Homo sapiens: one gene and its partners. The protein of the gene in region 6 purifies or fractionates together with the protein of the main gene of each other region. This does not show direct contact. Each region holds a gene or a part of one and is shown on either strand. Other genes may lie near its edges.

Region 1 (3,500 bases), on a different chromosome or scaffold from region 6:
CTGGGCAAAAAGAGCAAAACTCTGTCTCAAAAAAAAAAAAAAAAAAAAAACACACACACATACAACTTTTGACTCCCGAAAAACTACTAATGGAAAACTACTAACAGCCTACTGGTGACCAGAAGCCTTCCCATAACATAATACAACATAAACAGTAGATTAATACACATATTGTACTACTTTTTTTTTGAGACGGAGTCTTGCTCTGTTGCCCAGGCTGGAGTGCAGTGGCGCGATCTCGGCTGACTGCAAGCTCCGCCTCCCACGTTCACGCCATTCTCCTGTCTCAGCCTCCCAAGGAGCTGGGATTACAGGCACCCGCCACCACATCCAGCTAATTTTTTCTATTTTTAGTAGAGACAGGGTTTCGCCATGTTGTCCAGGCTGGTCTCGAACTCCTGACCTCAGGTGATCTGCCTGCCACCGCCTCCGAAAGTGCTGGGATTACAGGCGTGAGCCACCGCACCCAGCCTTTGTATTACATTATACTAGGTATTATGAGTACTCAGGAGATTATTTAAAGTACAGATCTGTGAACATCACAGTTTGAACTACATGGGTCCACTTATACGCGGATTTCTTTCTTCAATAAATATATTGGAGAATTTTTTGGAAATTCACAACAATTTAAAAAAAGATGAACTGTGTAGCTTAGAAGGAGCAAAAAAAATAAAATTATGCCATGAATGCATAAACTGTATTATATGTATTGCGTACTGTATTATATGCTGCATTCTTACAATATGTATTGTAATATTATATACTGTATTCTATATTATATACTTTATTTTTACAATAAAGCTAGAGAAAAAAATTAAGAAAATCAGAAGGAAATTACATTTACAGCACTGTACCATATTTATTGATACCTGTCTGTTTACAAGATAAATCATTCTGAAATGGCCAGCAACCACAGCTACAAACCTCAATCTATGGCACATATGAAGCAATTCGACTTTTTCTTCATAATGTCATGCCTTTTTTCAGCTTCCTGGAGCACTTCCAGCATCACTTAGTGGCACCTCATATGGATCCCATCATGTTATTCAAAGTTTAGGGTACTGCACTAAATGCAATGAAAAATACAAGAGAATCCAGAGAGATACTTTTTACCATATACAATTTACTGGAGAGATGAGCTCCAACAACAGCAACACTTGAGCTCACAACAACAGCAACGGAAGGTGGCCACAAAATTATTACAGTAGCACAGTATGCACTACGGTTAATTTCATGCAGTTATGATTTAATACTGTATCTTTAAGTTTCTTTACATCTCTCAACTGTGAATGGTGCCATGTACAGTCTCCATTACATGTTTGTGTGTGTAAGTTTTGATAAATTTTAACATTTCATGACAGATTTGTATATATTTTATGATAGTGAGTAAAAGACTAGTATCTACATATATTTTATGCATTAATGACATAACTTTTTAACTTTCTCACTATTTCTAGACTACACAGTTCATCTGCAAGTTTTTTCAAATTGCTGCAAATCTCCAAAATTTTTTTCAATATATTTATTGAAGAAAAAAATCCATGTGTAAGTGGACCCATGTAGTTCAAAAACCCATGTTGTTCAAGAGTCAACTGTACTTTAAATTATCTCTAGATTACTTAGAATAATTATAACATAAATGTTATGTAGTCATCATACTGTATTGTTTGAGGAATAATGACAAGAAAAAAAGGCTGTACATGTTCAGTACAGAGGTAATCATCTATTTTTTTCCAAGTATTTTCCATCTGACATTGGATGAATCCACAGATGCGAAACCCACAAATACAGAAAGCTGGCTGCATATCAAGACAATTTATGTCTCACGTCAGCTCAAAACCCTCCCATAGCTCCCTATCTCACTATAAAAGTCAATGAAGTCCTACATGCTCTCTCCCCATTGGCTCCATATCTTTCTGACCTCATATTATACTTACTCTTCTCCAACTCTTTTACTCCGTTACAGCTACACTGCTCTCCTGGTGATTTATTGAACACTCTAGGCATGCTCCCATCTTAGACACTTCACATAGGCTATGTTCCCTCTGCCTGGAATGCTCTGCCCAGAGTATCTGCATGGCTAACTCCTTCTCCTTTGCTCCTTCTCAGTGAGGCCTTCCTTTACTGCTATATTTAAAACTGCGACCCCTAGTGAGCCAAGATCGCGCCACTGCACTCCAGCCTGGGTGACAGAGCAAGACTCCGTCTCAAAAAAAAAAAAAAAAAAAGCAACCCATGCCCTCATATCCTGGCACTTCTTATTCCCTCCCAATTCACTGTTCTCCACAGCGTTTATAACCTTCTAGTTATGCCATATAATTTACATGTTTATTTTGTCTTAAGCTAATAACTATAATGTAAGCTCTATGAAAGAAAGGATTTTCTCTATATTGTTCCTTGCCTAGCCCAAATGCATAGAATAGTGCCTGGCTCATAACAGGTCCTCAGTAAACATTTAACGAATAAATGCATGTACACTTGGTCACAAGCATGCCAAAACAGTGAAAGGTAATGCGTGGTAAGAAACATGCAGCAGACATCTCTGGAAACAAAGAAGACTGTGTGGGTCTAGAAAGAGAGGAACTAGCTGTCTGATTCTGACAACTTTCTATCCTTTTAACTCATTTCTTCCAAATTTAAGTTACCTCAAATTTTTGCCATAGTGATATAGAACATGATCAACCATAATACTCTTTAGCTTCACACTTTTCGAATGAATATGTTCCGTAAAGCATAAAGAACAGCTGCTTTGGTATTCTGTAATAAAATTACTAAGACTTTGTATTATGTTGTGCTAATACAAGCAGTAATTTAGCAAAATGGAAAAGAAAAAAAAAAAAACCTCAGCTTTATATCACTGAGCCGAAATGTGGGCATTCTATGACAAAATGTTTAATATTATCTTTGAGAACTGCACATCAACACTTGCAACATCTATTCCAATATTGTACTGCTTTTCCTTTAAAAAAAAAAAAAAAAAAGTATATCCTTGACCAAAGGATAGACTTTTCTCTGAAACTGAGAAATCTCAGTGCATTACAGGATCGGACTCCTAACCCATAAAATGAGGAGGGCAAATGTCTAAGGTCTCCTATAGCTCTGAAGTTTAAAAATGTCAGGATGGATAGCAGTTGACATAACACATCTGCACTCATACAAATAACATATACACAGTAAGAATGATTTATCCATCCCTGTATTATGAGAATGGATTATAAACCTGTTGATTTTACAAAAATTAATTTAATACTGAAGAAACTTTAGAGATCTTTAAAATCTAGCAAACAATTAGTATGAAACAGCCATGTCGGAACTAAGTATTACTACAAATGCATAACATTCTGAGCATCAGACTATCATATATGGTACCATCAGAGGCAAGCAATGTGCTATTTTTAAAAGGAAGGGAAGACTTACTATACGCACGGTTGATGTGTTTGTAACATTCTTAATCTCTTTGCTCAGAATATTAAAATATATTTTTAAAGGACAGAGAACCG
Region 2 (3,936 bases), on a different chromosome or scaffold from region 6:
TCACTCATTTCCACCCGCCTACCTCCCTCTGGATGTCCTGCCTGCACCTCCGAGTCACATGTCCAACACCAAACCCCTTACCTTTTCTTCCCTGCTCCCTTAAACCTCTTTTGTCAACTTCTGGCCACGCAGTCTCAATCTCTGGACAAGGGTACCAAGAAAGGAAGAATGCATTCACTTGCCAGGAACCTAGATTTTGCATCAAATATCTCAACTCTGTCCCCTCTGTCCTATACCACTTTACACTAAACCTCTCATCTGAACTGCTATAACACTCTCCTTTTGGTATTCTTAACTCAAGTTTTCAGTACACACTATTGCTAGAGAAACATTCCTTAGGTGTAATTTTGATCAAGCCTGGCACTCAGGATACTCTACCCAACATTTCTCAAACTTTAACGTGCATGTGAATCACACGGTGATCTTGTTAAAATGCAGATACTCTCATTCAGGGAGTGTGGGGTGGTGCCCCACTCCGGAGTTTTAACATACTCCCAAGTGACAATGATGCTATTAGCATCAGACTATATGCATATACAGTCGGCTCTAACCTATTTTTTCTATCCTCATCTACTTCTCCCTGCCTAGCATACATATGTGCATGTCTATATCGCTTACGTACACACACACACACACACACACACACACACACACACACACACAGACATACACAGAGACAAAATGTTTTCCAAACATAATCTCCGGCCTCTGTGCCTCTTGCTGTTTCCTCAAGTCCAGTGACTTTCCATTACAATTTTACCCATTTTTCAGGAACCAACTCATTCTGCCACAACCTTCTCTTATCTTCTTACCTACCCTCACTCCCATACCTCACCTAGTAGAACACCACAAAAACCTTGGGACATCCCTGACACTGGCACTGTTTCTAGTCTGTAATGTTGTTATAGGTCTTCTCGTTTCATCCGTACTGTTAGACTGCACACTCTCCTGGAAGGCAGGAACTACCTGCCTAACCTCTGCCACCCAGGGCATCCTTGGGCTCTTGTTAACCAGTAAGTACCTGTTGAAGTGGATTTGAATTCTAAGAAAAAGAAAACGTCTCAACTCTACTTCATGTAATTCATTTTGAGCAGGAGCTTCAGAAATTTATGATAAACAAAAACACTCTTCCAGGAAAACTGACTCATTAGCAAACCTAAGAAAACTTTGTTTTATATATATATATTTACAAATGTTTATATATTCAAATGGTGCCTAGAGAATTTTAGTACTTATCCTATTTATAGTAGTCTCCAGATATATAGATCAAAGTTCTAATATTAATTTAAAATTAAATCTAACTTGTTACGATCTAGTAATGACTATAAGTCTAAAATATGTTCCAATCCAGAGCCCAGCCTTCCCTAGTTTAATTTACTTAATGCTCCCTTTAGCACTCCATTTATAAAATGGGACATCACTTTCTCCACGGGTGTGATAAGATTGGCTGTCCCCCAAATTTACTGTTAACATGCCTTACATTGTGTCTAGACTTTGAAAAGTGCTTTAAAACAATCACCTTGAAGTAACATTTTTTGAATGCTGAGAAACTCAAAGAAAACCCTATATTAAATGTTTATACAGTAAACCCCTTATTCAAGAACCTAACCATGGCTCTTAGGTTCAAGAACCAATATTCAAGAATCTGACTATAGCTCTTAAACTTTAGCGTGCAAGAATTATCCGGCGTGCTTGTTAAACACGCAGATGCCAGGCTCTTACCCAGGGAATGTCTCATTCAGTAAAACTGGGGTAGGGCCTAGAAAACTGTAGATTTCACCAGCAACCCCAGGTGATTCGGATGCAGGTGTTCCGCAGATCTCAATTAGACACTGATCTCAATCCTTGTCCGGGGGCACTACAGAGTTGTGTTTGAAAGAAAATGCAGACGTCTTTTGCTAAAGTCCTTTCTCAAAACAGCTGTCACGCCAGCACAGACAGGAGGTGATGTGCGTAAGGAAAAAGAGGGAAAGGTTCCTTGGAAGAGAATCAATGCCCGAAAACAATGAAAGAGGGGAAGTGGCGTTTCTTTGCAACCCTGGAATTCCATTCTCCCGCACCTGCGAGGATGCTGCTCTGACCCGTCGGCCAGCACCAGGCCCTCGGGAGCCGAGCCCAGGCAGGTCGCTGGCCGGGGGATGGGAGGGCGTCGTGGCCCCGCGCTCGTCCCCAGGTCGCCAGCTGCCCTCCGCAGCCGAGGGAAGACGCCCGCCCGGGTCCCGGATCTCCGCCCCCCTACACCGCATCCTCCGCGGCTCGCGCGCGTAAACAAGTTGCCTCCCCCGGGTCGGCAGCCCCTCACCTGCCGCGCGGTCGCAACTCTGTCTCATCGTCTGGTTCCGGACCCCGAGGCTCCTGCTCTCCCGCGGCTGCCGGCAGCGCCTCAGCGTCCTCCACAGTCACCTCGGCCGCAGCCACGGCGCCCGCCGCCGGTACTCGCGTCGCTGAGGTGGGAGCAGCGGCCGCCCCGAGGCCGAACGCCGCCTCCGCCGTCGGCGCTGGGAGGCCACGGGCGCGCCCCGCGGCCACCGTCCTTGCCGCGAGCCCCAGCAGCAGCAGCAGCAGCAGCAGCGCCCGTACCAGCAGCCCCGGGCTGATGGCGCGCTCCATCAGCGTCCCGCCCCGCGCGCAGGCATGGAGGCGCAGCCACTGACGCCTGCCTCTCCCGCCGCTTGGAGCTCCCAAGAAGGCAAGGACGTGCTAGGGACCCTACTGCCGCCCCGACGGCCTGGACAGCCAGCCGTGTTCCCCTGGCCACGTCTCAGCCCGGCCTCTGCCGCTGCCACCTGAGTGACAGCCTATCTCGGACATCGCCCATTGAGCAAACTTTCCGCGCGTTTGCTCTCTCATTGGCTGCGGCCGCTGCCACTCCATGTTCCCAGGCTGGCCTTGTTGGGGAAGGTGGACTTTCCCTGGTGGTCAACATCGCACCTACCAATCAAATCGTAATTTCGTCGTTCGAGGCCCGTCCCTCTTCCGGACGCAATTACCAATGAGAAATGCCCTTCCCCGACGTCTTTTTACCTGATTGGTGCGCTCATCAGTTCCCGGAATACCTTTCCTACAACAGATTGGCCATCGCGGTGGTTGGCCTCGCCCCACAAAGCGAGGCGCTGGAGAAGACTTGAAGATCATTGGTGGAAGTGGATGTCCCTCAAAGGTCTGCGCTAACTGCCTCTTGATTGGTTGGAAGCGGCACTTACTACGTGGCGGATTCTGACTGTGAAGAGGACTGTCCCAAGTGAAGAGTGGGAGGCAAGTGCCTTGTGACCGGGAGGAGGTCGACCTTAAAGGAGCTGGTATTGTAGCTCTTCTAAAGCCTAGTCTACTTAGGAAGGCAAAAGCGAAGCAGCAAGAAGTGGCCACAGAAGCCGTGTGGTCCCTAGAAGTAGAAGGGTAAGGAGGATGCAGGAGATGGTCCTACTTGTGGCCGCAACGGGGCTCAGAAGTCCGCTTGTTAGAGATGGCAGTGACCTGTGACAATCCAGTCTGCCCGACACGCCTCCCGCCTCCTTAGGAACGGGAAGGAGCCCCGGCCCAGTGCACTGACGTAGTTAGCCTAAGATCACGTAGCTGGTTGGTCACAGAATCATGACTTTAATTCATGTCTTCTGACTCTGACCTGGCACGCTTTGTACCTCACCAAAGACAGTGATGAAATTGCAAAAGGGCAGAGTGGAGAAGACTGGAATGTTCAGCCAAGGCATTTGAACTTTTAATGCTGCAAGTCAAGACTTCCTGAAGATTTTTGAGCAGATGAGTGAAGTGATAAGAAAATGCATCTTCAGCAGTGACAGCATCAACGAGGAGGAGACTGGCCGGGAGGCTATTACCCGCATCAAAACCAGTGAACATTAAAAAAAATTTTTTTTTTAGAGAGAGGGTCTTGCTCTTTTGCCCAGGCTGGAGTGCAGTGGCTTGACCATAGTTCTCTAT
Region 3 (3,500 bases), on a different chromosome or scaffold from region 6:
GACAAGCATGATCTAGTCTGCACCAGAGGAATTCAAAATAATGAATATGTTACTGAGGCATTGCTATTAATGTTGTCTAAGGAAATTCCACTACCTTCCAAACTAAAACTAAAACTACAACTATTGCTCAAAATGGAATTTTAAAAAACTACCAACTTGGGAGTTAGCAAACTCAGGTAACATTTTTATTTCTGGACAAATCACTAACTTGTTTATTCCTTTCCTACGCTAAAAATCTGCAATTGAGTAATATTCACTAAAAAGTGTCTACACTTACCATCTGTGGCAGAAAATAATTCATAAAGAGCCTGAGCAAGGATATTCACGACAAAGGAATGAGATGTTTTTCTTGCCCAGTAAAATGATTTTTTGGCCTAAAAAAGAAATAGCTCATTTATTATATGGTAAGGATAAAAAAGCACAAACTGATGTTTATAATCCCCTCAAACTGATACTTATCCTTCTAAGGACTATCTGCAAGTAATATTGCCTTATGTTTATCATTTACAAAAAAAATAAAAAATCACCTTCAGAGCAATGGGTTATATGACACTGAAGCTAAATTTACAACCACTATGAGCTAAGTGGCCCATAGCAATCAAGTGTTACATAATATTCAAATTTAGAAATTCTCTAAGATTCACAGGTTGCAAGTCAGGTTCTTTAAGCCTAAGCAAGATGCCTAAGAGCTATTATAAAGCATCAGGTTCCTTAGTACAGATCTCCCCATCAGAGCCCCACTGCTCTTAACCCCCAGAAATAAATCCATTTTGAGACATTTTTGTCAAAATAATTGATCTTACCTCGAAAATAGCTGCATCATCATAAAGGTCAGGGATACCCTTTAGCAGTTTTCTCCATAGTTTTATATCTTTAAAAGCAACAGTCATTCCTCCACCAGTAAGTGGATGCCTCATATTATATGCGTCTCCCAAAAGAAGAACACCTATGAAGAGAGGTAATGAAGATTTTATTTTAGAGCATCCCTTGAGACAAAACAAAAAGGATAACTCAATGTATAAAGATTACTGATGTAAGCTAATAATAAGAAAAATGTGAAAATACATGAAAACAAATCATGATTAAAATTTGCTGAGGCAAAAATTCAAGAGTTGTTTGAATCAATGTTGGGTACCTAATAGGTGGCCAGGCACTGGGGATATGGTAATAACAAGAGTGTGGCCTCTGCCCTCATGAAGCTCATATACAAACCTAATGACAAGTCCAATAATGTCAATACATTTGTAAGGCCTCCTTAAAATATGAAGAAAATAAAAAGAATCTACAGGTATCCAGGTATACAAAGCAAGTCCTCTGGCGATCATCCCCCTCCCACACAGGAAAGCACCTTCATAAGAACCAAAAGTCAGCCTGGGTACCAGCTTGGCCAGTGAGACAGAGCACCAAGTGGGTTCCTGGGGTCCCTGATTCTAGGTCTTGGCACCTGGACAGCATTTTTGGATCCGTCCTGGGTGAGAGGGGAGCCCATTGTACTGAAGGGAGAGACCCAGGTCTGGCAGCATTCACCACCAGCTGACTGAAGAGCCCTGGAGCCTTGAGTGAACACCAGCAGCAGCCAGGCAGTACTCACTGCAGGCCTGGAGCACTGGTGGCCATGGGGAGAGGCTCCTTCTGCTTGAGGAAAGGAGAGGGAAGAGTGGGAAGGAATATGTCTTAAGGTTTGGGTGCCAGCTCAGCTGCAGTAGAATAGAGCACCAAGTAGATTCCTAAGTTTCCCAACTCCAGGCCCTGGCTCCCAGACAGCATTTCTGGACCAGTCCTGGGCCCCCAGGAGCTCACTGCCCTCAAGGGAAGGGCACAAGCCTGGCTGGATTTGTGCTGACTGTAGAGCTCTTGAGTCTTGAGGGAACATCAGCGGTGACCAGGCAGTCATCACCACAAGCCTTTCACCAATACCCAGTGCTGTACTGGCTTCAGGTCTGACTCAGCACACGCCAGTCATGGTGGCCACAGGCATACCTGTGTCACCCGTCCCCCACAGCTCCAGGCAGCTCAACAAAGAAGGACAGACTCTGTTTGGGGGAAAGTAAGGGAAGAGAACCAAGAGTTCTTTTCCTGATAATCCAGGGAATTCTCCCAGATATTACCCAAGACCACCAAGGCGGTACCTCTACAAGTCTGCAAGGGTCACAATGTTACTGGACTTGGGGTGCCCCTTAATACAGATACGGCTGCTATGACCAAAGACTTAGATCACAACACTCACTTCCCTTTGAATACTTCAAAAGCGTTCCCAAGAAAGATGGGTACAAACAAGCCCAGACTCCGAAGACCACAATAAATACCTAACTCATCAATGCCCAGACATTGGTGAACATCCACAGTCATCAAAACCATCCAGGAAAACATGAACTCACTAAATTAACAATAATAAATAAGGCACCAGTGACCAATCCCAGAGTAACAGAGATGTGAGCTTTCAGAGAATTCAAAATAGCTGTTTTGGAGAAGCTCAACAAAATTCAAGACAACACAGAGAAGGAACTCAGAATGCTATCAGGTAAGTTTAACAAAACAACTGAAATAATTTAAAAGAATCAAGCAGAAATTCTGGAGATAAAAAATTCAATTAACTTACTGAAGAACATGGCAGAATCTCAACAGTAGAACTGATCAAGCAGAAGAAAGAATTAGTAAGCTTGAAAACAGGCTATTTGAAAATACACAGAGGAGACAAAAGAAAAAAGAATAATCAAGAATGAGGCACACCTACAAGATCTAGAAAATAATTTCAAAAGAGCAAATCTAAGTTCTTGGCCTTTAAAAGGAGATAGAAAGATGAGGGTAGAAAGTTTATTTGAAGAAAAAATAACAGAGAACTTCCCAAATCTAGAGAAAGATATCAATATTCAAGCACAAGAAAGCTACAGAACACCAAGCAAGGATTGGTGATTGATTTAATCCAAACAAGACTAGTTCAAGCCATTTAATAATCAAACTCCCAAAGGTCAAGGATATAGAAAAGATCCTAAGAGCAACAAGAGAAAGGAAACAACAAACAATGGAGCTCTAGTATGTCTGGCAGTAGACTTAGTGGAAATCTTACAGGCCAGGAGAGAGGGGCAAGACACACTGAAAGTGCTGAAGGAAAAGAACTTTTATGCTACAATAGTATATCCAGTGAAAATATCCTTCAAACATGAAGGAGAAATAAAGACTTTCCCAGACAAACAAAAGCCGAGGGACTTCATCAACACCAAACTTTCCCACAAGAAATGCCGAAGTGAGTTCTTCAATCTAAAAGAAAAGGACCTTAACGAGCAGTAAGCAATTACATGAAGGTACAAAACTCACAAAAGTTAAAAAGCAAGGAGGATAAAGTGTAGAGTTTTTATTAGTTTTCTCTGCTCGTTTGTGGAATCAGTTGTCATCAGTTTAAAATAATCGGTTATAAGATATGACCTGCAAGCTTCCTGGTAATTTCAAATCAAAAGCCTACAAGAGGTAGGCAAAAAAATTAAAAGCAAGAAATTAAAACA
Region 4 (3,500 bases), on a different chromosome or scaffold from region 6:
CTGGTATTTTTTCCATTCCATGAACTTCATAACCTGTTTGAATGACAAAATGCAAATACTTAAAATATATTCATTAATTCGTTTACAGTAAAGGATGGTTGGTAGCTCAGTCTTTTCTCACAAAAGTACACTAGTCTTCCTGGTTCTCTTCCCCTTTCCCCCTTCTTCCCTCTCTTTCCTCTTCTCTTTCTTTCTTGAACAAATCAGTCCTACAGCCATTAGGTGGGCCACAGTGAAGCAGACAACCTGTGTGGAGAGGTAGCCTGGAGTGTTGGCGCCAGACACTAAGGAAGGCACTCACACAGGTGGTGCGGAGTGGGGAGTCAGAACCAGAGCAGAGTCACGAGGGCACTGCACAGAAGAGAGCCTATCACAGGTTGGGGGGCTGCTGAGGGGGAAGAGAGGAGGCAAGGGTCACGGAAGCTTGGGAGTCAGAGCCTGAGTGAAATGGGGGCATCCACAACCAGCAAGCAGCCTGGCAGGAGGGGCCAGAGCCCGAGACAGGTGGCCTGGTGTAGGGCATCACAGCCTGAGCAGCTGGACAGGGCACTGTACAGAGTGGTGGCCTGGCACAAGCAGGGACAGGGCATCCATGAGTTGTAGGGGAAGGCAGCAATGATGGGAGATGGGTTACACACAGGGGGACTGATCAAATGAGTCAACATAGTAAGAATAACGGGAGCCAGGTTTCACTGTTAGAGGAGGGGGTTGAAAACATTAAAAATACTGTACAGTATTACTAGTAAGAGAAACTCTGTAGCCACAAGGGAACATCACTCCCACCCTACTGATGAGAAAAAGCCTGAAGTACAAATCTTTTTTTCTTAAGCATGTCAGAGAACAGAGGTCACAAGGCAACCAGGCGAACTGAACTTCAAAGGGTGATAAACCCCTCTAAGGAAAGACAAAAACTGAGAATGGGAGGAAGAGGCAGATGCCATAAAAGAGGGTAAGAAGAAGTGACATATTACAAAATACTTAAAGTCCCACGGTAGGCTAGTATTGAATGTAGAATCTCTGGAAGCCCCAGATAGTCACTCTCTAACTCTTCTCCACAGACCTCAGTGTGTGCTCACAAGAAAGATTAGGGGTGAAGCTGGAGAGTAAAGAGAGCCCCTGCTAATGGTACAGGGAACAAAACCCCACTCACTTCCTGGAAGTTTATCTCATAGAAGAAAACCTGTCAGGCGCTGGGAAAGGGGCAGGAAACCCTTTCACTCCCTCTAAGAAAAGGGTATATGCAAAAGGCATGTAATGCTGGGAGGGGCAGAACTCCACTCCCCTGCCCCACACACTCCTCCACCCTCACCAGCCCAGTGTCAGGCAAAAGTCCACTATTCTAGAGAAGGGGAAGAAGCAAAATATCTACCACTGGGCAGCGGGGGTGGGTGGCAGGAAAGTCTAAGGGGCCCAGAGTCCTTAAGTGACATAAAGCAGATATCTACCACGGGGGCAGTGGCAGCAAATTTGCTTCCATCACAAAACCCCCAACACAGGGAAAAGGGAAAGGAACACAGAAAGCCTCACCCCTAAGCCCCAGGAATACAGAGCCCCATAAGATTTTAGCTAAACCTGAAAACTGAGGAGTGCTATACCCCAGCACCAGGGGGAATGAGGGCAGGGGCATGAACAAGGGGTGTGAGGAGTCCCCAAGTACCCCCATGTGGAGTTATAAGCAAAGGCGACCTTTTCCTGGGGTCGCAGGAGGGGCGTGAAGAGACTCTTCCTGTGGCAAAGGCATACAGGACTGAAGGTGGAGCAGAAACAACCAAAAAATCCCTCTACTTCAGGCCCTACACTATGCACAAGATAACAGTAGGAGTCTGAAGTCTGTGCTGAACTGAAGGTAGCTGTAGCGCAGCAATAAAAGCCAAATCCAGTTCACTCAGTAGATTGAATCCACCTCCAACCGACCACCAATGGCCTGACAGATTCTTAGTCATAAATCCTATTTATGAGCCCAATTCTCAGTCATAAATACTATTTACCTCAGTTGTCATTCTTTTACAAACAATGGCCAGAATTCAATAAAAAATATGACATAAAATAGCAAGAAAAAAACCCACTGTCAAGAGCTAAAACAATTAACACACCCAAATGTTGAAACTATCAGATGGAAACTATAAAATAACTATGATTAAGTTAAAGGGGAATGCAGTGGCTCACGCCTGTAATCCCAACACTTTGGGAGACTGAGATGGTAGGACTTTTGAGCCCAAGAGTTAGAGATCAGCCTGGGCAACATGGCAAGACCCACCTCTGCAAAAATGTAAAAAAATTAATTGGGCATGGTGGCATGTGCCTGTAGTCTCAGTTACTTGGGAGGCTGAGGTGGGATGATTGCTTGAGCCCAGAAGTTGAAAGCTGTAGTGAGCTATGATCGTGCCACTGCACTCCAGGCTGGGTGACAGTGCGAGACCCTGACTCTAAAAATAAAAATAAATAAATAAACGCAAAGGATCTAGTGGAAAAGGTGGATACATGCACAATCAGATTAGGAATTTCAGCAGAAAGATGGAAACTATAAAAAAATAGAGTCAAATAGAAAGGCTGTAAACTTAAATGAGCTCTAAAGATTTGATATTAGTAACATAACAATGTTAATTTTCCAATTTTAATGGGTTTACTGAGGTTAAGTATGAGAACATCCTTATTTGCAGAAGCCATCAAGTAAGTTACAACTTCCCTGAGATAACATGACCTACAGTAAATTTAAAAATGAGTCATAAAATAATTCATCAATAAAAGCAAAAAAAGTAGGCCAGGTGTGATGGCTCAAGCCTGTAATGCCAGTTCTTTGGGAGGCCAAGGCAGGAGGATTGCTTGAGGCTAGGAGTTTAAGATCAGCCTGGGCAAATCAGTGAAATCCCTGTCTCTACAAAAAAAAAAAAAAAAAATTAAGTAAATACAGTCCGGGCACAGTGGCTCGTGCCTATAATACCAGCACTTTGGGAGGGTGAGGCGGGAGGATCACCTGAGGTCAGGAGTTCAAGACCAGCCTGGCCAACATGGTGAAACCCCATCTCTACTAAAAATACAAAAATTAGCCAGGTGTGGTGGCATGTGCCTATAGTCCCAGCTACTCGGGCGGCTCAGGCAGGAGAATCGCTCGAACTTGGGAGGCGGAGGTTGCAGTGAACTGAGCTCACACCACTGCACTCCAGCCTGGGACACAAGAGTGAGACTCTGTCTCAAAAATAAATAAATAAATATAAATAAAACTAAAAAATACATATTTTTAAAACAGGAAAAATTATTAGTGACTGAATGTAAAATAAAATACCATTTACACTGTTATATATACACAGATATCATAATGCTGTAAACTTTAAGTTCATTCACAAACATAAGACTTCATTTTTATGTATTTAAACAATTCTTTAGAAATTTCCTCATTCTATTCATGAAAAAAACAAACATGATTTTGTACAATCTTATTACATGTGGGGGAAAAACTTTAATCACAGATTTGAACTAGACTACAAGAAAATCTCTGTCCT
Region 5 (3,500 bases), on a different chromosome or scaffold from region 6:
AATTGAATAATATATTTGGAACAGTGTATTTGGATTAGAGTAGGTAAATATTTTTAATTTAAAATAGTTCAAACCCAGAAAGAGACCTTTTAGATTTTTTGCTAACATACTATAGAAAAGATAATTTTTGATGTCAAATATACCAATGTATTTATTATGCCATCCTATTAGCTGCTTTAAAAAATCACTTTTCTACATAATGCCTATTTTGAAGGTCCAAAACTATAGAATTAGCTTAATGCAGATTATTTGTCCCATGGCGTAATGGCATAAACACTCCACAAATGTATTAAGACATGGCAAATAACATAGAGTATGTGATTTCTTCTGAGTTTATTAGCAAATATTAAATAAGATTATCCTTGTTATAAAGTAATACACAACAAGGGCTGTAAAATCTAATTACACCTCAGAGAATATGTAAATTTAATGGAATAAAATATTGTGGCATTCCTTTGTTAGCTAAAGATAGGTACTGATAGCCACTATAATTAATCTAAAAATGATTACCTTGGTGAACATAGAAAAAGTATGCTATCTGCTTCAGGTAAGTAGATCATTTGACCCTTGAGACGTAAGCAGCTGATCTCAGTCCCAGTCAGTTCATCCTCACATTCTAATTTCTCCACATCCAACAATCCTTCCTTGAAAAGGCAAGATACAACCATTAATGAATGCCTTTCTCCCTACCTAAGAATTCAGCAACAAGGACACGCATATCTCATTTCCCACCAAACCACAAAGCAGAATAAGTGCATCATTAGAACAGGAGAGGGCCTTCTGTCAGAGTTCTGCCTGTAATAAGCCTAGTGGCTGCCTTGCAACACTGCAGAAAAGTGACTGTCCCGTCTGAATTCAGGACAGTAACTGTGCTACTCTTCACATAATTATTTCAAGCTTTTGTGAATCTTTTTTATCCCCCTGATTTTCCGGTATGGTTCCAACATACATTACCAGACTCTCAAAGAATAAGCCAAGCCTCCCCATTCTCCCACCCTGTATTCATAGAGCAGCTGCAAACAGTCAGTTCCAAATACAGAAAGGATTCAATGGGTACTCTAGGAAAATGACTTTTGCTGTATCTATCCCAAGAACAGAAACCGTGAGATCCCAGCACTATCTAAATTATCAACTGTGTGAATATTTCATCACTTTTATTCACCCACAAAAACGCTACTAAGAACAATAGACAATTTAAGAAAGAATAAATAAGTGGTTTTGAGTGAAGTTCCAAAAAAAAAAATCCTTTTTAGTTCTGATTTCTAAAATAAGGCACTGTAGCTGTACAGGGAGTAAAAGATGTTGGTTTTTTGATGTGAAACAAGGCCGTCTCAGAAAGACAGTCTCTAAAATTTACCTCTGTTAATTTTAATCAGTTGATAGAGTTCCACTGCTCCTCAGGCAAACCAAAAATCAATGTTATTGCCTTTTAAATAGATCTTCCTTTGAGGTCTGGGTTTTATCTCTCTATACTTTCTCAGAGAATGTGATAATTTTCCCCCCTGAATACTTCTAATTTGTGACATACCTTTCTCACATTTAATGAAATAATATCTTGATTACCTTGCTTCTCAATACAAAAACAGTATTGATGTGAGAAAGGATCCCATGGAAACTAATATCAATATGAGGACGAACCAGCGAGAAGACAGACAGAAGGCTGCAATTCCCAGGCTGGAGCTAAAATATAGATAGAGAGCAAAGAGTATCACATCAGTTAAAATAGTTTTTATACTTTGATATTAATCGCTTGATTAAATCAGCTCAGTTATATTTAAAACTAGAAAATTATAATTATTATAATTCAAGGGAAACTTAGCTGAACTATCAACTCAAATCTCAATCTATACAACTCAGTGATTAAATGGACATTAAATAGTTACAAGAACATGAAATCTGATATGGATTCAGATGACTAATATTCAAATGTAAGCTAGCATAAATTTACAATGCATTTTCAGAAGGAGAAAAAATGAAAATTTATCTTTTAAAATGTACAGTGTTATGTTAAATGTGTATGGCTTGAAATGAAATTAAAATACCAAAAACATGAGCAAACCCTCTCTTAATATTTATCTAGAGGGCTAAAAGTGAAAACAATAGGTAACACTGATTGATTGCTTACAATGAACTAAGTATTTTTCATATGCTTTCTATTCTCATGCCAGAACAAAGAGAAACAGGCTGAGAGAAGTGAAGTAATAAGTTCAAGGTCATACAGTAAGGGACAGGTAGAGTCAATACCAGAGCCAGGACAGCACACTACTCTGCTTCCATTTCACCTGATCCAACTGGGCTAATCCTGAATTTTCAAGTCTCTTTAATTACAAGCAAAAAGTATCTCTAAACGTATGCCATATACAACTCCAAAAGTTAGTATTTAAGAAAAAAAGAGTAAGCATAAAGGATTTTACCAATGGATCTGTCATAGAAGTCAACAGCAGTTTCTCATCATCATCCCAACTGCTTCCTTTGATGCTTTTTCTACTGAATCCATCATCATCTCTATCATTTTGTGTTTTAGTTCTTTTTAAAATCCCCCCTTTTCCCTTAACACCATCAATAGTTGATTTTTAAAGCTATTTACAGATGGTAGATATCCAATGAATATTTATTCAGTGAATAAATAAACATGTGAAAGGTGACTGTTACTAAAAAGTTACCCATTTTTTTTCACTGTAACAAGTATACTATTCTTACATAACATTCCTACTGTTTCTGTATGTGATTATTATAAAAAAATAGTTGTCCTAGGGAAAGTTGTGGTATGCTCAAATACACTTAGTTCACAATTAAACAATTTGTGTAACTTACAATAAACTGCATATTACCTAATACATAGTCAGAGGGTTAAATGAATGGATGGCTGCCTGTAACAATAGTATTTCTATGGGCTTTTGTCTCAGGCCCCAAGGAAGTATGCTGTCATTTTACCTGGGGGAGAACTCTGTATATAGCATTGCCACACTGAGTGACCACTAGGTCCCGGTCAAATATTATATGAAAAGGAAAAGCTTTGCAGAATGTATATGGGCTGATGCGTGATTCCTGGGTACCATTTTCTTCAAATCTGTCAAGATCTTCATAAAAATCCTCTTCTTTTGACTCTTTTTCTTCAATTAAAAATTGAGTATGATCACATTCTTCATTTCTTTGCTGAATAACCTGGATATCAAAGGGGGAAATGGCATGAATTGTCTTCATTTCAGTTTAATAAAAATACCTAAATATAAAAAATGAGTTATGAATACTGCATTTAGAAGATTAATTACAAAAATTCAAAACATATATGCAAATACTCCATATGTCTAAAATAGGAAAATATTTCTGGACTTTGATCTATAAAATTTGAAGATTGAATAATCATTGTAAAATTACAAATCTGGTATCAGTTCCCCAGTATCCTATATGGTCTCTTTGGTAGAATTAGAAAAAAAAAGCACTTGTGGGCTCTGCCTTCTTAGCCAAGCACACTTGTATAGTGAACAACCTGAAAGCCA
Region 6 (2,672 bases):
TACAAAGTGAAGTCACACAGGCATGGAAATCCAAACATCGTATATTCTCACTCATATGTGCCAGCTAAGCTATGAAACACCAAGGCATAAAAATGATACACTGGACTTGGGGACTTGGAAGAAATGTTGGGGACTGGAGAGGGCTAAAAGACTACACATTAGGTACAGCGAACACTGCTTGGTTGATCGCTGCACTAAAATCTCAGAAATCACCATTAAAGAACTTATTAATGTAACCAAACACTATGTGTTTCCCAAAATGATAATGAAATTTAAAAATAAAAATGGAATGTCTTTATTGAAAATGCCTTATATTGTAGTCATAACTGAATTGAATATTAAAAAATCTAAAATAGTTTATCTGAAATAAATTATACTGGTACCCATCAATATGTTGAGCAATGCACACAATTAGTGATATTTTTAGGACTTAATAGAAAAAGAGAGACAATAAAAAGAAGACGTTAGCAGACAGCAAAACATGAAATTTATGAGGTAACTCAATCTCCAGACTTGCCCTTTCCTAAGATTTTCATTAATGCTCTGGTCACTTCCTTGTTGCGGAGGCTATAAATGAGAGGATTCAGCATGGGAGTGACGATGGTGTAGAATACAGACACCATCTTGTCCTGCATAGGAGAATGATGAGATGTGGGCTGAATGCACATGAACAAACCTGCTCCATAGTACATTCCCACCACCATGAGGTGAGAGGAACAAGTAGTAAAAGCTTTGCGACGTCCCTCTCCAGATCCCATGTGAATGACAGCCAGAATAACTCGAGCATAGGAAGTGATGATGATTGCAACAGGGAAAACAAGCATTACTATACAGCAGATGAAAATAACCTCTTCAAATATTGATGTGTCATTGCATGAGAGGATTAGTAGGGAAGGGAAGTCACAGCAGAAGTGGGCTATTTCCCGAGACCCACAGTAGGAGAAGGAAAATGTCGCTACAGCATCAATGATTCCATCTGTAGAGCCCAGGATCCAGGAGAAGGCAGTCATAAGTCCACAAATTTTGGGTCTCATGAGATTGGTGTATCTTAGAGGGTGGCAAATGGCAGTGTAGCGGTCATAAGACATAACAGCCAACAGAAAGCATTCGGAGCCAAGCAATGATATATAGAAGAAAATTTGTGTGGCACAGCCAGCCATAGAAATGGACTTGCTGCCAGACAAGTAGTTGAAGGCCATCTTGGGTACAGTGGTGCAGATGAGCATGAGGTCCATGAGGGACAGTTGGCTGAGGAGGAAGTACATGGGGGTGTGGAGCTGGGTATCCAGGTAGATGAGGAGAACCATGATGGAGTTTCCCATGAAGGCCACTGAAAAGATGGCCAGGACCAGAAAGAAGAGGAAGGTGTGGGTGGGGCTATGATTGAAGATTCCCAGGAGGAGGAAGTCAGAGTTGAAGGTCTGATTCTCCCATGCCATGATGAATATGCCTGTTACCTAGCACCGCAAAAACAGTTCATTAATTTGATAAACATTTACCCAGTGCCTTATAAAGCATGTGATTATGGTAAATTCTGTAGTTTGGTGATCAATACAGGATGGCCAGAATTATAAAACTCAAAGTTTAAGAATTATGGAATCATAAAGAAATATGTTCTCTCAGCAGTGTCTCACTTATAAAATTATGGAGCTTGTCCTAACTTTTCTTCTAAGCATTCTTTTTCTCCATTGAAAAATTACAATAACAATATCTACTACATGATCAATGGAGTTTTTCCAAAAAGAATATGTCTCCAAAGCAAACAGTTCCTAAAACATCAGAAGCCTGTTACAGGTAAATTGATAGAGAAATTCAGGTTCAGTCACCATGTGACCAACACAATACTAGAAATGGACAATAAATTTGTGCCTTTATTCACATGATAGTAGGCATTTTTCCTACCAGAGTTAAGAAAATGTGTATGTTTACCTATTACTTTACAGTTTAAAGTATTTTATCTATACTTTATAGTAAGTTTTCTATACAGTAAGTGGATTCACTGAAAAGATTTTCAATTATACAAATCTAAGACATATGCTCTTTTTTCTATAGCCCAGTGTGATGCATTGAATTATGTTTCTTCCCCAAAAGATAGCAAGTGAGCTTGTTTAGAAATACATAAAGGGTATAATTAGTTAAGGTGAGGTCAAGTTGGAGCAGAGTGGGTCTCTCTAATTCAATATGACTCATGTTCTGATAAGTGGGTGGCCATGTGAAGACTGAGACACTGAGGATACCATGTGATAGGGGAGGCAGGGATTGGAGTGGTGCATCTACAAATCAAGAAATGCCAAAAACTGTTAGTTATAACAGGAACCTGGGAGAGAGGAATGGGACAGATTCATCCTCTTAGAGCCCTCAGAAGTGTCCAACCCTGCTGACAACTTGATTTCAGATTTCTAGACTCCAAAACTATGAGAGAATAAATTTCTATTGTTTTAGGTAACCTGTTTGTGATTTCTCTGTACTGGCATTCGTAGGAAATTAATACATCCAATATATCCTATAGAAAATAAGTAGATATAAAAACAGAAATTAAGAAAAGCATGAGATTCATCCTTTCAACAACATTTATGAAGCCTGGCTATGTGTTGATCACTGGGGCTACCACAGTGACCAGAATAAAGAAAGCCCGTGTCCATACAGGTCATAGTGAGTGTGATCAGATGATG

The links.
Region 1: the proteins of OR2M7 (region 6) and MARCHF6 purify together in Homo sapiens (affinity purification with mass spectrometry; one large-scale study listed by BioGRID and IntAct). This does not show direct contact.
Region 2: the proteins of OR2M7 (region 6) and EIF2AK3 purify together in Homo sapiens (affinity purification with mass spectrometry; one large-scale study listed by BioGRID and IntAct). This does not show direct contact.
Region 3: the proteins of OR2M7 (region 6) and SQLE purify together in Homo sapiens (affinity purification with mass spectrometry; one large-scale study listed by BioGRID and IntAct). This does not show direct contact.
Region 4: the proteins of OR2M7 (region 6) and TMEM68 purify together in Homo sapiens (affinity purification with mass spectrometry; one large-scale study listed by BioGRID and IntAct). This does not show direct contact.
Region 5: the proteins of OR2M7 (region 6) and GUCY1B1 purify together in Homo sapiens (affinity purification with mass spectrometry; one large-scale study listed by BioGRID and IntAct). This does not show direct contact.

Annotation. Positions count from the first base shown.
Region 1 is NC_000005.10:10,356,695-10,360,194, reverse strand, and holds part of MARCHF6 (E3 ubiquitin-protein ligase MARCHF6), read right to left. Parts: intron 1-3,500. UniProt on the Homo sapiens protein: Endoplasmic reticulum membrane-associated E3 ubiquitin ligase that plays a critical role in mitigating endoplasmic reticulum stress, the regulation of cholesterol and lipid homeostasis, and ferroptosis.
Region 2 is NC_000002.12:88,624,665-88,628,600, forward strand, and holds the start of EIF2AK3 (eukaryotic translation initiation factor 2-alpha kinase 3 isoform 1 precursor), read right to left. Parts: upstream 2,801-3,936; 5' UTR 2,611-2,800; coding exon 2,303-2,610; intron 266-2,302; exon of another isoform or gene 82-265; intron 1-81. UniProt on the Homo sapiens protein: Metabolic-stress sensing protein kinase that phosphorylates the alpha subunit of eukaryotic translation initiation factor 2 (EIF2S1/eIF-2-alpha) in response to various stress, such as unfolded protein response (UPR).
Region 3 is NC_000008.11:125,015,505-125,019,004, reverse strand, and holds part of SQLE (squalene monooxygenase), read right to left. Parts: intron 947-3,500; coding exon 804-946; intron 375-803; coding exon 278-374; intron 1-277. UniProt on the Homo sapiens protein: Catalyzes the stereospecific oxidation of squalene to (S)-2,3-epoxysqualene, and is considered to be a rate-limiting enzyme in steroid biosynthesis.
Region 4 is NC_000008.11:55,756,379-55,759,878, forward strand, and holds part of TMEM68 (DGAT1/2-independent enzyme synthesizing storage lipids), read right to left. Parts: intron 34-3,500; coding exon 1-33. UniProt on the Homo sapiens protein: Catalytic subunit of the alternative triglyceride biosynthesis pathway, which mediates formation of triacylglycerol from diacylglycerol and membrane phospholipids.
Region 5 is NC_000004.12:155,793,521-155,797,020, reverse strand, and holds part of GUCY1B1 (guanylate cyclase soluble subunit beta-1), read right to left. Parts: intron 3,166-3,500; coding exon 2,935-3,165; intron 1,681-2,934; coding exon 1,564-1,680; intron 645-1,563; coding exon 511-644; intron 1-510. UniProt on the Homo sapiens protein: Mediates responses to nitric oxide (NO) by catalyzing the biosynthesis of the signaling molecule cGMP.
Region 6 is NC_000001.11:248,323,130-248,325,801, forward strand, and holds OR2M7 (olfactory receptor 2M7), read right to left. Parts: upstream 1,440-2,672; coding exon 501-1,439; downstream 1-500. UniProt on the Homo sapiens protein: Odorant receptor.